Homo sapiens: one gene and its partners. The protein of the gene in region 2 purifies or fractionates together with the protein of the main gene of each other region. This does not show direct contact. Each region holds a gene or a part of one and is shown on either strand. Other genes may lie near its edges.

Region 1 (3,917 bases), on a different chromosome or scaffold from region 2:
AGAGGAGAGGGCAATGCCTGCCCAGGTTTGTTTTAAAATGTTGCTTTTAAAAAAACACATTAAAGTTAAAATAGCTGTTAAAATAATGTGCATGCAATTTGGCCATTTTTTCTAAGTGTGCGGGTCTGGAGCCAGGTTTTGTCACTTAAATAATCATTTTATTTAAGCCTTTAAGCATTTTATTGGATTGGCTGCTTGTCTTTGTTTTAACTCATTTCTCTAGTTTTGATCAGTTCTCCGAAGCCAGGGTCAACCTCAGCACTGTCAACATTTACGGCTGGATAATGTTGGTTTGGGGAGCTGTCCTGCGCATTGTAGGATGCTTAGCGGCATCCCCAGCCTCTACCTGTTATATGCTAATAGCCCCCCCGACCCCTGAGTTGTGACAACCAAAAATGTCTACATGTGACAACAAATGTTCCCTGGGGAGGTGGGGGGAAAGTCACACCCACTCGAGAACCACTGTTTCTAAACCGCCCTTTTGTATTTTGCTATTTTATGTTCAACCTGAAAATGGTTAATCTGGTAATGTTACTATTCTATTAAGAAATTGATATGAAAATGTTACTGAGGCCAGGCACAGTGGCTTACGCCTGTAATCCCAGCACTTTGGGAGGCCGAGGCGGGCAGATCACAAGGTCAGGAGTTCGAGACCAGCCCGGCCAATACGGGGAAACCCCGTCTCTACTAAAAATACAGAAATTAGCTAGGTATGGTGGCAGGTGCCTGTAGTCCGGGCTATTCGGGAGGCTGACGCAGGAGAATTAGGAATCTAGGAGGCAGAGGTTGCACTGAGCCGAGATCATGCCACTGTACTCCAGCCTGGGCGACAGAGCGAGAGTCCGTCTCAAAAAAAACAAAGGTTGCCCGAGTGTGGTGGCTTACGCCTGTAATCCCAGCACTTTGGGAGGCCAAGGCGGGCAGATCCACCTGAGGTCAGGAGTTAGAAACCAGCCTGGCCAACATGGTGAAACCCTGTCTCTACTAAAAAGTACAAAAAATTAGCCAGATGTGGTGGTGGGTGCCTCTAATCCCAGCTACTCTGGAGGCTGAGGTAGGAGAATTGCTTGAACCTGGGAAGCGGAGGTTGCAGTGAGCCGAGATGGCACCACTGCACTCCAGCCTGGGCCACAGAGCAAGACTCCATCTCAAAAAAAAAAAAAAAAAGTTACTGAAACCAGAAAATCTGTTTTTTTTTAAACCATAATTTTTTTTGAGACAGAGTCTTGCCCTATCACCCGGGCTGGAGTGCAGTGGCGCGATCTCGGCTCACTGCAACCTCCGCCTGCTGGGTTCAAGCCATTCTCCTGCCTCAGCCTCCCAAGTAGCTGGGATTACAGGCAGGCACCACCATGCCCGGCTAATTTTGGTGTTTTTTAATAGAGACGGTTTCACCATAATGGCCAGGCTGGTCTCGAACTCCTGACCTTGTGATCCACCTGCCTCAGCCTCCTACAGCGCAGGGATTACAGGCGCGATGTCGGCTCACTGCAAGCTCCGCCTCCCGGGTTCATGCCATTCTCCTGCCTCAGCCTCCTGAGTAGCTGGGAGTACAGGCGCCTGTCACCACACCTGGCTAAGTTTTTGTATTTTTAGTAGAGATGGGGTTTCACCGTGTTAGCCAGGATGGTCAGCAAGACCCCATATCTAAAAAAATTTTTTTTAATTAGCCAGGTGTCTTAGACAAGGTAGAATGAATTAAAAAAAAAAAAATTAGCCAGGTGTAGTGGTGCACGCTTCTAGTGCCAGCTACTCAAGAAGCTGAGGTGGTAGGATCCCTTGAGCACAGGAGTCTGAGGTTACAGTGAGCCGAGATCATGCAACTGCACTCTAGCCTGGGTGGCAAAGCAAGACCCTGTCTCAAAAAAAAAAAAGAGTTCGGGTGTGCAAGAGAGAAGAAAAGGAGTTTGGGTGTGCAAGAGAGAAGAAAACGTTAATAGGCCAGTAAGTAGGTCTGTCAGCTTGATAATGACTTTTTTCAGTTAAGAAGAATGGAAGAATCTCATCAAGAAGCAACAGAGAAAGAAGTAGAAAGAATCTTGGGATTGTTGCAGACATATTTTCGAGAAGATCGTAAGTGTAACACCATTCAAAGTGGAGCAATTTGTATTTATCTGTTCACTGAGGTTACTTGTATTTAAAAGGCAATTTCAGCTGTATGTAATATTTGAATAAATACATATGCATTTTATGAGGATTCTTCTCCCCTTTAGAAATTTCATGTGAAAACTTTGAAGTTAACGTTTTCATTTTTATCTTTAAAAGATGGGGATTTTTTTTGTTACAAAATGAAATATGCCATTCAAGTGAGAAATGTCAAAAGTAGCTGTTCCACCTCCCCTCATTATAAAATGTAATGTGTATATTTTCAGATTATTTTATCAGTTTTATACACACCTACCTAAATAGTTTGTTTTGGCCGGGCGTGGTGGCTCACACCTGTAATCCCAGCACTTTGGGAGGCTGAGGTTGGGAGTTCGATACCCGCCTGACCAACATGGAGAAACCTCATCTCTACTAAAAATACAAAATTAACCGGGTGTGGTAGTGCATTCCTGTAATCCCAGCTACTTGGGAGGCTGAGGCAGGAGAATCGCTTGAACCCGGGAGACAGAGGTTGCGGTGAGCCAAGATCACGCCATTGCACTCTAGCCTGGGCAACAAGAGCGAAACTACATCTGAAAAAAAAAAGTTTGTTTTTTTCTTTTTTTCCAAGCTAATCATAATATGCACATTCTTCTGCTACGTGACTTTTCCATGTGGACATTCTTCCACATCATTTCATATAGATCTCCCTTGTTTTGTTCACTGATTCCCATTATATGGCTGTACTGTAAATATATTTAACAGATCCTCCATTAATGGATGATTAAGTTCCTTTTTTTTTTTTTTGAGACAGAGTCTCGCTCTGTCGCCCAGGCTGGAGTGCAGTGGCGCGATCTTGGCTCACTGCAACCTCTCCCTCCTGGGTTCACGCCATTCTCCTGCCTCAGCCTCCCAAGTAGCTGGGACTACAGGCACCCGCCACCACGCCTGGCTAATTCTTTTGTACTTTTAGTAGAACCTGGGTTTCACCGTGTTAGCCAGGATGGTCTTGATCTCCTGACCTTGTGATCCACCCACCTCGGCCTCCCAAAGTGCTGGGATTACAGGCATGAGCCACCGCGCCCGGCCAAGTTCCTATTTTTTTTTTTTTTTTTTAGGAGACAGTCTCACTCTTTCGCCCAGACTGGAATGCAGTGGCACCATCTCAACTCACTGCAACCTCCACCTCCTGGATTCAAGCAATTCTCCTGCCTCAGCCTCCTGAGTAGCTGGGATTACAGGCGCACGCGCCACCACATCTGGCTAATTTTTTTTCTGTATTTTTAGTAGAGACATTGTTTCGCCATGTTGGCCAAGCTAGTCTTGAACCCCTGACCTCAGGTGATCTGCCAGCATCGGCCTCCCAAAGTGCTGGGATTACAGGTGTGAGTGCCATGCCCAGCTGGATGATTAAGTTCTTTATAGCATTTTACTCTTGTATAAATTGCTGAAGTAAAAAATCTTAGTATGTAATTTTGTGCAGTTACACTTGTATTTCTGTAGCACAGCTTCTTAGAGGTGGTTTCCAGGTCAGTGGGCATACATGTTTTTAGTAGAGATGCCAAATTGGCCTCCAGAAGGGTTGGATTGATTTGCACTCCTGCAGCAGGAATGAGTACACATCCTTTCTTTGTCTCTGGCTAACGCTAGAGTGTACTGATATTAATGACAAGCAAAAATCAATTTTTTTTTCTCTTTTTGTCTATAGCTGATACCCCAATGTCCTTCTTTGACTTTGTGGTTGATCCTCATTCTTTCCCCCGTACAGTGGAAAACATCTTTCATGTTTCCTTCATTATACGGGTAAGATTAAAGATTATTTTTCTAATTGC
Region 2 (3,917 bases):
ACTCCGTCTCAAATGAATGAATGAATAAATAAATAATAAATTCTTACTAATTCATGATTTGATTGCAAAATTTTATCTTTCTTTTCTCTGAATCATAGAATCTTTCCTTTCTTAGGTTAAAAATGCTGAATTTCCCAGAGGTGTATTAAATTTAATTGAAAGCCTCATAGAAGGACATTTTTTTAAAGAAGCAATTGAGGAACTTTCCACTTTGCAGGCACATTATATCCCTCCTGTATGCGTTCTTCATGCCCTTCTAGAGAACGTTCTACAGGTAAGAGCAGCCTTAAGGATTTATAATCTTTTTTTCAAAGAATGTTAAAATGTGAACATTTTCTCACTTTTTGTATGTTTACAGTTTATTTTCCCTGTTCAGTGTTTTTTTTTCTTCATTTCACTAATGCAGTACCCATTTATTACTACTGTTCTGTTTTCCAGCTACATACTAGGTACTACTCTTAGTGCTTTAGCTAATGATTTTCTCAGGATTTCTAAGATAATTTTGTTTTGGGGAAAAAGGTTATCTAATTTTTCTCACGGCAGTAAAGTATCAAATATAAAATTCAGATTATGGTGATCTAGAATTACATTTGGTAAATTACTCCATTAGTACATTGATGATTATCATTTTTATTTATAGTATACATAATGAACATACTCTTTGTTTAAAAAGAAATAGAGGCAAGTTCCCTCTCTGTTGTCCAGGCTGGACTGCAGTGGTGTGATCATGGCTCACTGTGGCCTCAACCTCCTGGGCTCAAGTAGTCCCCCTGCTTCAGCCTCCCAAGTAGCTGGGACTGTAGGCGCATGCCACCATGCCTGGCTAATTTTTAAATTTTTTGTAGAGATGGAGTCTTGCTATGTTGCCCATGCTGGGAACATACCCAAACTGTGTAAACCAATAGGAACAAATATTCAAAGATCGCTTTCTAATCATGCCCTTCACCAAGGTGCTAATTTGATAACATAACAGGCATAAGCTTTGTCAGGTATGTTATGTTGGTGATAAGTAAGCATGTTGCATGAATAGTTTGTTACTTTTAGTTCCTTTCAGGTAACATTTGAGACCTCTTAAATCTCACTATAATTGTGAAAAGGAAAATGTGTATTCCATCTAAGGTAGTGTTAATAGAAGGGATTACCCAATGTATAGATAGAGTCATCCCTTGCTGTCACAGGATATTGGTTTCAGGACCTTTGTGGATACTGAAATCTGCACATAATCAAGTCCTGCAGTTGCTTCTTCAGAACCTGCACTTATAGGAAAAGTCAGCCCTCCACATACGAAGGTTTTACATCCTGTGAATACTGTATTTTTAAAGGTTTTTCTTTTAGAGGTAATTGTAAAATTTTCCCTTACTACTAGGGAAAAAAATTTCCTTCACTACTGAAGGCAATAGAAAATAATTAATACAATAACTAATAAGATACAGTCATACATATCATCCTCTTTGAACTACATAATCTCATTCAGCAGCAAGGGCAGGAATTATCTTTATTTTACAGGTGAGGAAATTAAAACTTCTTAGTAGGCCGGGTGCTGTGGCTCACACCTGTAATTCCAGCACTTTCAGAGGCCGAGGCCTCCCAAATACAGAATACTGTATTTAATTGCAGTTGTAGAACCTATGGACGTGAAGGGTAGGCTGCATTTATTGGAAAAAAATTCATGTGTAAGTGGACCCATGCAGTTAAAACCTGTTATTCAGGTATCAGCTGTACATAGAGTGTGCCTGTCTCTCAGTTGCTTTATTTAATTAGCTAAACATGATGCTTCCATCTGCTCTCCTTTGTCTAAACACGTATATTTGGCAAGAAACTTAGGCCAGCGTTAGGCCGGGCGTGGTGGCTCACACCTGTAATCCCAGCACTTTGGGAGGCTGAGGTGGGCAGATCACAAGGTCGGGAGTTCAAGACTAGCCTGGCCAACATAGTGAAATCCCATCTCTACTAAAAATACAAAAATTAGCCAGGCATGGTGGTGGGTGCCTGTAGTCCCAGCTACTTACTCAGGAGGCTGAGGCAGAAAAATCGCTTGAACCCAGGAGGCGGAGGTTGAGGTAAGCCAAGATCGTGCCACTGCACTCCAGCCTGGGTGACAGAGCCAGACTCCGTCTCAAAAAAGAAAGTTAGGCCAGGGTTACTGTTTTGGTTTTAGACTGAATTAGAGAGTCAAACTACTTTTAGCTATAGTGTTTTATTTGTTTGTTTATTTTTAAATAATAGGATAACATAGATACATTTTCTGGTCGATACTTTCATATATTGTCAGCTCTTCTTCACCTGCATCCTCCTTGGAAGTCTCCAGCCATGTCGAGATATTATTTAGAGTTGTTTCAGTGTCCAACTTGTATGAAAGGAGCATGGTCTTTAGTAGAAGTCCTTATCAGGTAAGGAATTTCACATTTGACGATGCTACATTTCATTGAGTAGTTGTTATGCTAATTATTTTTTTAAGATACTGATGAAAGAAGTATCTTTCTACTTTTGGAAAAGTTTTGTTGCAAATACAAATATGTATTGTATTTATTGCAAAACTTATGAAAAGGCAAATCTATATTGGTCATGTTTTTCAGTCTGTTTCCTAAAAAAATAAAAAATGAATGCATGAAATGGACTCACTAGAAAGCCAAATCATTATTATTTTTAACAAAATAGAAATTTGTGTATTGTTTTTTAAATGAAGAAAATTAATTTATGGAATATGCATATCATCAGTTTTTGTCACCAAAAGTGTAGACATTTGTAACTATAGTATCTATTTTAGGGCTTCAGTTATATTTTTTTCAGCTAGAAATTTGAATTTTAAAACAGAACTTAATATTTCCTAAATATGTCATCTCTTTTATGCTTCTGCACATGCTGTCACTGCCTAGACCTTCCTCTGTCTTTCAGTTGTTAGTGTCTCCAGAAATTCTGTTTCACCTTCTTTCTCCCTAACAGAAAATGTTTTCCCCTTGCTATTCAAATAACTGTATTTGATAACCCTTATTCTTCTGGGAAGATCTTTTCTTTTTTTGAGACATGAGTCTCGCTCTGTCACCCAGGCTGGAGTGCAGTGGCCTGATCTTGGCTCACTGTAACCTCTACCTCCCAGGCTCAAGCAATTCTTATGCCTTAGCCTTCCAAGTAGCTAGAGTTACAGGCATGTGCCTCCACGTCCAGCTAATTTTTGTATTTTTTCATTTTTAGTAGAGATGGGCTTTTACCATGTTGGCCAGGCTGGTCTCGAATTGCTGGCCTCAAGTGATCTGCCTGACTTGGGCTCCCAAAGTCCTGGGATTATAGGAGTGGACCATCACGCCTGGCTGGGAAGATCTTTTTTTTTTTTTTTTTTTTTTTAATTTAAGTGTCCAGTTTCAGGAGGTTCATAGTGGAGAAAGGACACCTGACTAGCCATGCAAAGGCTAGACCTCTGGTTAGCTCTTTGAGATCATAAAGATTCACATACCATCTTGGTTGTGATATATTTAAAGTGAGCTAATCAGTTAACCAGCATGCATTTATTCATTCTTTTAACAAATTCTTGAGTACTTACGGAGAGCCAGACACTGTACTACATTTTAGGGATTAAAAAGATGATTTAAATAACAGTTCCTGCACTTTGAAAGTGACTGAGATGTAAACAATACCGCACAAAAGTACAAGCCCAACAGTACAAGCCCAGCATAGGTATATGATGTGAGAAAATAGAGTTTATGTGGCTGACATCCTTCATAATTTCCAAATCTATTCCTTTCTTCACTGTCAATTGTCTTTATTTTAAAGTTCCTGTTTCTTCTTATATAAACTATTGCAGTAGCTGCTTTATTGATCTTGGGTCTACTTTTTTCCTTTTAATTTTTCTTCCAAAGTACCCCCCCACAGTATGCTCTTTCCAAAGTGATCTTGTCATTTCCCATATTAAAGTCCTTCAT
Region 3 (4,664 bases), on a different chromosome or scaffold from region 2:
AAAAACTAGACCAGCCAAGTAGGAAAAAAAATTGTTTTCTTAAGAAAACAACAAAACCCAGATGGAATAATCAGAATAAAGAGGAGGTCAGGTCCTACGAGGAGCTAGGATAAATTGGGGGAATCCCTCAGGTTTTTTTTTTTTTTTTTTGGAAGTGCCAGGTCAAATAAGATGGAGATTTACTGGAGTCACACTGCTGTTGGCACCCGCCTAACCCGGGCCTCCTTTTTCTCAAAGACACAGGCCAGATGCCAGCCTTGGCCTCTCTTTGCTCAGGAACTGGCTGACTCCCTGCCCCAGGATTTCACGGCCATGACCTCTCTCTGGGAAAAGTTCCCACTATTTGCTGCTGGGGAAACCAGGACCCCACCCCAGGGCTGGCCAAGGTGAGCAGGCTGAGTTCAAAAGAGACTCACCGGGGACATTTGCAAACACGTCTTCGGTTCCCTGGATAAGGAAAAAGAAGGGAAAAAGTGAGTGCCCCTATCCATCAATAGTCCCCAAAGACAGTGTATTTTTTGTTGTTGCTGTTGTTGTTGCTGCTGTTTTTTGGTTTTACAAAAAATCATTTCAGAACGATCATGGGCTGAAATTGGATGAGGCAAATAGGGAATTGCCTCTACGAATTCTCCTTCCTTTCCCCTATTTCTTTGAGGATTATAACTCTTGAGAGCCGGGTAAGGGCTTCTTATCCATCCTTCGTCTCAAGCATCAATTAAAAAAAATTGCAACTACAGACGCGGGCGAAAGCGGGGAGCCTGCAGACCTGATCCGGCACCTCTCTTGCATGGGACCCAAAGCAGGGTGGGCGGTTCGCCGAAGAGGGCCAAGGACGAACCTCAAACTGATGGTGGTTTTGACTAACCCTCCTGGGCACTTGACTCGGCCACAGCGGCCCCCTCCCGGCGGGCGTTTGTCATGTGTCCAGACATGTGCGCGCGCGCTGCGGGCTTCGTCGACGGAACACACCCGCTGCAGCGGCTCTGGGAACGCGGCTTTGTCTCCCAAAACCTCTCCGAGAGCGCAAGGAGCGGGAAGGGCTTTCTCGCATTCTATCTCCCAGAAAGAAGTGCCTGTACCTGCGGGGCAGCTCGGGAGTCCCAGAAAACTCAACCCCAAGCTCCCCCCTCGCAAGGTCCGCCTGGAGCTAGCAGAGCCAAGGGCAGGAGCGGGGCCGACTCCTTCCCGCCGCGATTCCTCGGGACTTACTGTGGTTGCAGTAAAGGGTGATAACCAGTGACAGGAGAAGGACCCCACAAGTCCCGGCCAAGGGCGCCCAGATGTAGATATCACAGGCGAAGTCCAGCCCCCTCGTGTGCACTGACGACACCAAAGACGCCGACATTTAGGAGAGGGCCCGGGACCTCCCAACCGCCCCACCGTCCCGGGAACGTCTCTCCGCCTCAGATCTCGGTTTCCCACCACTTGGACAGCCCTTGACTCTACCTACAGTATCAGGGCTGTCCCTGGCATGGGCTCTCCCCGCGGTGCGTGCCGCCCCCGCCCCGGGCCCCCGCACGCCTCACCTGCGCCCCCCGCCGCTGGCCGGCACGCCTCTGGGCGCAGGGACAGGGGCTGCGACGCGATGGTGGGCGCCGGTGTTGGTGGTCGCGGCGCTGGCGTCGTGGTGGGCTTCGCTGCAAGAGCAACAGAGCGTGGTTGGGGGCCAGGCTGGGGTTATGGAGGCGCCCCAGCCCCGGCCTCGCGCACCTTTCCCCACGGGGACGCCTCCCCCCGGTTTTCCTGGGAGAAGGGATAGCAGAGGAGACAGGATGGGGACCCCGGGATGCGCGCGGACCCCTGTGCTCGGGCCTCGGCTCAGCCCAGCGCACCCGGCGCCCAGAGCCGGAGCGCAGGAGCCAGCTCCCCTGCACCTGGCCTCTCTCCCGGGCTGAACCAGCAACCCTGGAGCGCGGGTTGATTGCTGTCCGCATTTTACCCACGAGCAAACGGAGGCGCAGATAATTTAAGTCATTTGCCCAGAATCACACAAGAATCCGAACTCGAGTCCAGATCGGCCGGACGTAAAAAGCCATCCCCAGTCCCTACTCAGCCTCGCGTTAGCCTCAGTTTGCTGTGTCTGTGAAATGGGAACAGTATCTAAGTCGCTTCCAGGTGCGCTAAGAGGCTTGAAAGCAGGGCCCAGGTGTGGAAAACAGGTTGAGGTGAACCCCAAGCCCCACGCGGAGAGGTGCCGCAACCCGGCGCGCGGACCTGGCAGGAAGACCGGCACGAAGTGGCTGAAGTACATGATGGAGTTGCTCAGGGCCGAGCAGAAATAGTAGCCCTCGTTCTCTCGGCGGAAGTCGCTCAGGGTGAGGACGAAGGTGTCCCCCAACCTCTTGCCCGAGAACCGCTGGGTGTCCAGCCCCTCGGCCGCCTTGGGCTTGTTTTGGGAGAGGTATAGGAGGAAGGTGGGACTGGCGGCGGCGCCGCGCGGCTGGAAGAGCCACGAGCAGCCCGACGTCGGGTTGGACAGCAGCACCTGGCACTTCAGCTCCACTGTCTCGCCCAGGTTCCAGGTCCGATCCAGCGGCGACACCCGGAACTGGCTCGGCCTGGCGGCGTCTGCAGGCGGCAAGCAGCGAGGCTGAGCCCGCAGTCCCGCGCCCCCCGCCCCCCGCCCGCCCCATCCCCTGCCTTCCCGGGCGTCTCAAACTCACGGAGCAGCAAGGCCAGCGGCAGGAGCAAGGCGGTCACTGGTAAGGCCATGACGCGCTCCCCAGGACGCTGCTTGGCTCGAAGCTCGGGCGCGAGGGGAGGCGCGCGGGAGCCGGTGGGGCGCCGAGGGGGGAAAGTTGCGCCCTTCGGCCGGCCCGGAGCCTGATTTCGCATTTGGAGGATGTGATGTCACCCGAAGCCCCCGCCGAGGAGAGTCACCCTCCTTTTCGCGGTTGTCGCCTTCCAGCCCGGCGAGGAGGCTGGGGCCCGTGAATAGGGCCGTCGAGGCAGCCTGGCCAGGCAACTGGGGGCAGCTGAAAACTGCGGGTTTGGGGATGAGGAAAAGGGCTTGGAAATAGTCCTTGGAAATGGTTGTCTTGTGAGAGTGACAGAGTGGGTGAAGGGAGACCAAAGATTTCAAGAAGTGAGGGCGAGAGTAGGCAGCAAAGGAGGGGAGTGTCCCTTCCTTTGCCTTCACTAAAGGCGTCTCTTGTACTGTCACCTTGGGACTTTTTATTGGCAAAATGGGCACTGAGGGCTGAAAAGGAAGAGGAACTAGCGACCTGCCCGCTTCTGAGGAACTCGCTAGAGCAGCCCCAGTTTTCACCGAGGAAGGACCCTCTCCCTTCCCCCAGGAGATTTCCATGAGAGCGGCAGCAGCCGAAGCTTTGGGTGTCGGTGTCAGTGCGCTGCTGACCTCATTCTTCCGGCCTTTCATCCAGCGGCTAAACTCACCACACAGCCTCATCTCTTCTTGGAGCCATTGCAACAGCCTTCAATTCACACCAGTCTCTCTCCTGATCAGTCCTCCAGCCACGTTGTTATAAAAATTATTATTCTCACAAAGGGGATCTGACAGCGTCACTGCTGCAGCCTCCCATGGCCTGCATTGCTGGATGGAAATTCAACCCCCAGCTTGGTTGACCAGCCCTTGGGTGCTGGCTCCTCCCAGCCTCCGCACAGCCCCCTGCCCTGCCTTTCCCATACACCTGCAGCTGCAGCTTCACAGGCTTGAAGTCATTCAACCCCTGCGCTCTGTGCTTTCACGCCCTTGCACTTGCGGTCCCTCGGCCTGGAATGCTGGTCTGTTTAAGCCCTGGAGGCAGCTCCTGTGCTGTCTCATTTGGACCTCATTTCTTTCACCCCCAGCTCTGGGTGCTCTGCAGGGAGGTGTGGGTGATGTGGGTGAATGCTTGGGTAGAGGCGGTTTTCTCTTTTCTGTCCCTAACACATGTGTGTCCCCTTCCTTTTTGTTTCTTTAAAAAATAAAATAAAATAAAAAAGACTGGAGTCTCGCTGTTTTGCTCAGGCTGGCCTTGGGACTCCTGAGCTCCAGTGATCCTCCCACCCCAGCCCCCTGAGTAGCTGGGACTACAGGCTCATCTTTCCTTTTTGACTGTTGCTGTCCTGAAACCTTCCAGCTCCAGTGGCATGCCCTCTTCCCATTTCTTCAGGGTTTCTGAGTCTTTCCACTTTGAATCCCATAGTGGCTGCACCTCACATTGCTACTGCTTGATCCTAGAGACAAGACACCTGGCATTCTGTGTTCCATGTGTCTGCCCCACCCATTAGTTCTGCTGGGCGAGGACCATGCCGAGACTTCATGATGTGTCCTCCATCCCCAGAAACACAGCATGGGCTGAGCTGTGCTTGTTGAACTGCATTCTCCTTGTCCTTGTGAAGTACAAACTTAAGTGTTGGATGGGTTCTTTGTCGTTGTTGCTATTTTTTTTTTTGAGATGGGGTCTGGCTGTGTTGCCCAGGCTGGAGTGCAGTGTGGCACCACCTCGGCTCACTGCAGCCTCTACCTCCCAGGCTCAAGTGATCCTTCCACCTCAGCCTCCCAAGTAGCTGGGACCACAGGAGCACACCACCATGCCCAGCTAATTTTTTGTATTTTTGGTAGAGATGGGGTTTCACCATGTTGCCCAGGCTGGTCTCCAATGCCCGAGGTCAGGCGCTTTGCCCCGCCTTGGCCTCCAAAGTGTTGAGATTACAGGTGT
Region 4 (3,917 bases), on a different chromosome or scaffold from region 2:
TCCTCGGGAGTTATAGCCATGTGCAGGGATGAGGCATTTGTTTCTGAAAGAAGAAAGAATACAAATGCATCAGGCCCCTCCTCTGTGAACTTAGCCACTCTGAACCTCACCCACAGAATTTCACTAGGTCCTCCTTGTAGCCCTGTGAGGTGAATACTAATATTGTACCCATTTTAGACATTGGGAAACTGAGGCTCAGGTTGCTTAAAAGACCCGCCCCAGTGAGAAGACACCAGGGGAAAGGTGCACTTTTGTCACACGCTCTGAGCACAGACCTTCATGGAAATTAGCAGAGCCAGGCTTTGCATCTCAATAGAAAACCATGCAATCTCTGCAGCTGCAAGGACCCCAGTGAAAAGCAGGCAAGCCTCCACTCCTGGCCTCTCACCTCAGCCCCAGGAAGTGACAAAGGCCTCTGAGCTCAAGGCAGCCTCAGAGTAGAAAAGGGATTCTCTGAAGCAGGCGTAACTGCTTTATTGAGGCTGGGCACAGTGGCTCACGCCTGTAATCCCGGCACTTTGGGAGGCAGAGGCCGGCGGATCACTTCAGGTTAGGAATTCGAGACCAGCCTGGCCAACATGGTGAAACCTCGTCTCTACTAAAAATACAAAAATTGGCCAGGCGCGGTGGCTCATGCCTGTAATCCCAGCACTTTGGGAGGCTGAGGTGGGTGGATCACTTGAGGTCAGGAGTTTGAGACCAGCCTGGCCAACATGGTGAAACCCTGCCTCTACTAAAAATTAAAAAAAAAAATTAGCCAGGTATGGTGGCACGCGCCTATAGTCCCAGCTACTTGGGAGGCTGAGGCATGAGAATCACTTGAGCCCAGGAGATGGAAGTTGCAGTGAGCTGAGACTGTGCCACTGCACTCCAGCCTGGGTGACAGAGCAAGATTTTGCCTCTAAATAAATAAATAGCCAGGCGCAGTGACTCACGCCTGTAATCCTAGCACTTTGGGAGGCCAAGGCAGGCAGATTGCCTGAGCTCAGGAGTTCAAGACCAGCCTGGGAAAGAAACATGGCAAAACCCCGTCTCTACTAAAAACACAAAAAATTAGCCAGGCGTGGTGCTGTACGCCTGTAATCTTAGCTACTTGGGAGGCTGAGGCAGGAGAATCACTTGAACCCGGGAGGCGGAGGTTGCACTGAGCCGAGATTGTGCCACTGCAGCCCAGCCTGAATGACAGAGCAAGACTCTGTCTCTAAATAAATAAATAAATAAATAAATAAACATCTTTATTGAGATACAATTGACAGGTAGTAAGTGGTGCATATTTGAAGTCCACAATTTGGCAAGTTTTGGCTTATACACATATACACCTGTGGATTCCTCACCACAGTAACGGAAGTATTCATCACCCCCGGAAGCTTCATCCTGCCCCGTGTCATCCTCTGCCCTTCCCTACCTCCTCTCAACTCTCATGGGCCCTCTCTCCCTGCAGCGGCTGCAGAGCGGCACCACAGGTGTGTGTGCGCTCATTGCAGGAGCGACCCTGCACGTCGCCTGGCTCGGGGATTCCCAGGTCATTTTGGTACAGCAGGGACAGGTGGTGAAGCTGATGGAGCCACACAGACCAGAACGGCAGGTAAGGGGATCCCTGCGCCCAGGCCCAGGATATTCCTGGCCTCCATCATGCTGGGCCCATAGGGGAACCCCACCCAGCCTGGGAACTTCAGGTAGTAGTAATCCTGGCACCTTTCAAGAGGGAGGGCTCCCTGCCTGATTTGAGTGGCCGGGGGTCCCACGTGAGCCCTTCCTGAGAGCTCTGTGGGTCACAGCTATATGGAGCCCAGAGCTCCGGGGGAGAGCAGAGCCCTCTGCACTGACAGGCATCCCAGTGCAGTCAGTGCAGCCCAGTGCAGACCAGAGCCCATCATACACACGGACAAGGAGGCCACAGGCTGTGGGTGAGGAAGGCCTCAGGGAGGTGATGCTGCCCCGAGGCTGGAGGGAACCTGGCTTGGGGCTGTACTGACTAGAGGCTGCCTGGGACCCTGGCACTCAGGTCATCACCTGGACATGAGGATGACAGTCCCACTCAGACCTCTTCTCAGAAGACTGTCTCATCCATGTGTCTCCTGAGGTTGGATTGCGAGCATTCAGATATCATGGAATGACTGTTTATCCCTCAAACCCCACTTTTCCCACGTGCTGTTCTCCACCAGCTATGTTTGATTAACCATGCACATGGTGGATAATTCTACGTCAGCACATAGGAGCACCCATCCTTTCTTGGGGCTGCGGACATTGCATTCATCATGCAGTCCCTTGTGGGTGAGCATGAAGATCTTTTCAGTCTTTCGGTGCTAAAAACAATGCATCTCTACCTACTTTGTGCAGCATTAATTGCTCAGAGTCAAGTGTACCTATATCTGTAGGACACATCCCCAGAAGTGGGATGGCTAGGTTGGAACTGATGCACGTACAGTCTGGGTAGATTTGCCAAGCTTCCCACCTCAGGCCATGCCAGCCTGGGCTGGCACTACATTCCCAAGAAGGTCCATTTCCCCACAGTCTCACCAGGCTGCAGGATTCTTCCTGTCAGGTAAGAAGCCTGTCTTGGGGCAATTGTTAAGTTTGCTTTTCTGTTACAGAGTGAGTTTGAGCGTGTTTTCAAAAGCTGAAGATCATTTACACAGCCTTTCCTGCAAACACTGTTTTTTTCCTTTGCCTGTTTTTCTTATCAGTTTATAGGTTCCTTGTATATGTGAAGGAGGTTGGTTCCTTGTCTGTGATGATTTGCAAATGTTTTTCCATGCATCTTTTATTTTTGTTTATGGGCTTTTGCCACATGGAGGCTTTGTGTTTTTCTGTAGTTGAGTAGTCTTTTTGTGGCTTCTGGTTTGGAAAGCACATAGAGACACCAGGACTTGATGATTGTAACAGTCAGGGGCAGCTACATTCCTTGGCCTTTCACTGCGGCTCACGGTCTGGTATGGGCCCCCTGTACGTCCTCTCCCCATTGTACAGAGGAGAAAACTGAGGCTCAGTCACTTGCCCAGAGCACACCGCCAAAGTCACAGATAGTCTCTGCCACTCCCCTGCCTCCACCACCGTGGGGGAATTTGGCACCTGCTCCCTAGTGGGCTCTCCTCCCCAGGATATGCAGTCAGATGAAATGTGGCCAAGTCAGGATTCGTGCTGGGCCCACTCCCACCTGCTGCCTGCACACCTACAGGCTCAGCATTCAGCACCCCATTAAAGCCCAGTGGGGGCTCTGTTCAAACACTGCCTGAGTCCTGCAGTATGGCGTCGTGGCAGAGCATGGACAGATGGCCTTGCCTGGTCCCGGCTCCACCGCTTCCAAGTCCATCACACAGGGGTCCCTGGAGGTTTGGGGTAAGGATTGAGTGTCCCAGTGCATGTGGAGCACAGAGATCAGAGCTTGCACAAGAGAAGCACACACAGGTGTCTGTGTTCTTGGCTGCAGCCCGCATGGGCCAAGGAGTTCAGATCCAGTGCCCCCCACCTCCCCTTTCCTGCCGCCATGCTCTGTAGGCTTGGCCCCTCCTGCTGTGATCCTGATCACAGCCTTCCACCCTAGAGAATTAATCACAGATCCAGGCCAAGGTTCTCCCACAAAAACAAGCATCATGTCGGTTACAAGAGCAAGAAACTGGCCTCAACTTGGCGAGCTTCAACGGGGGTCCAGCAGCGGCCCAGAGCAGCTTCCAGGAGTACGTGGGGGGAGTGCGTGGTGCTCTGCCTTGTTCTGCGGCTGTCTGAACAGTCTCCTGCCTCTGCACTCAGTTCAGCCTCCAAACACTGAGTGCCCACTCTGCACAAGATACTTTGTTGAGGCAGTGAGATAACACAGGACCCACTTCCTGCCTCTAAGTCTAATGGGGGAGCAGGAGGAGGGCAAGGACCTGGCAGGATGAGGCAGAGAGATGAATGGAATGGAGCCGCATCTCAGG

Evidence for each region.
Region 1: the proteins of SLF1 (region 2) and NSMCE4A purify together in Homo sapiens (affinity purification with mass spectrometry; one large-scale study listed by BioGRID and IntAct). This does not show direct contact.
Region 3: the proteins of SLF1 (region 2) and CD8A purify together in Homo sapiens (affinity purification with mass spectrometry; one large-scale study listed by BioGRID and IntAct). This does not show direct contact.
Region 4: the proteins of SLF1 (region 2) and PPM1F purify together in Homo sapiens (affinity purification with mass spectrometry; one large-scale study listed by BioGRID and IntAct). This does not show direct contact.

The regions. Positions count from the first base shown.
Region 1 is NC_000010.11:121,961,394-121,965,310, reverse strand, and holds part of NSMCE4A (non-structural maintenance of chromosomes element 4 homolog A), read left to right. Parts: coding exon 1-25; intron 26-1,982; coding exon 1,983-2,073; intron 2,074-3,203; coding exon of another isoform or gene 3,204-3,310; exon of another isoform or gene 3,311-3,558; intron 3,559-3,793; coding exon 3,794-3,888; intron 3,889-3,917. UniProt on the Homo sapiens protein: Component of the SMC5-SMC6 complex, a complex involved in DNA double-strand breaks by homologous recombination. The complex may promote sister chromatid homologous recombination by recruiting the SMC1-SMC3 cohesin complex to double-strand breaks.
Region 2 is NC_000005.10:94,663,635-94,667,551, forward strand, and holds part of SLF1 (SMC5-SMC6 complex localization factor protein 1), read left to right. Parts: intron 1-115; coding exon 116-274; intron 275-2,226; coding exon 2,227-2,390; intron 2,391-3,917. UniProt on the Homo sapiens protein: Plays a role in the DNA damage response (DDR) pathway by regulating postreplication repair of UV-damaged DNA and genomic stability maintenance.
Region 3 is NC_000002.12:86,788,114-86,792,777, forward strand, and holds the start of CD8A (T-cell surface glycoprotein CD8 alpha chain isoform 1 precursor), read right to left. Parts: upstream 2,801-4,664; 5' UTR 2,713-2,800; coding exon 2,664-2,712; intron 2,569-2,663; coding exon 2,215-2,568; intron 1,638-2,214; coding exon 1,527-1,637; intron 1,321-1,526; coding exon 1,210-1,320; intron 448-1,209; coding exon 417-447; intron 1-416. UniProt on the Homo sapiens protein: Integral membrane glycoprotein that plays an essential role in the immune response and serves multiple functions in responses against both external and internal offenses. In T-cells, functions primarily as a coreceptor for MHC class I molecule:peptide complex.
Region 4 is NC_000022.11:21,928,816-21,932,732, reverse strand, and holds part of PPM1F (protein phosphatase 1F), read left to right. Parts: intron 1-1,441; coding exon 1,442-1,585; intron 1,586-3,917. UniProt on the Homo sapiens protein: Dephosphorylates and concomitantly deactivates CaM-kinase II activated upon autophosphorylation, and CaM-kinases IV and I activated upon phosphorylation by CaM-kinase kinase. Promotes apoptosis.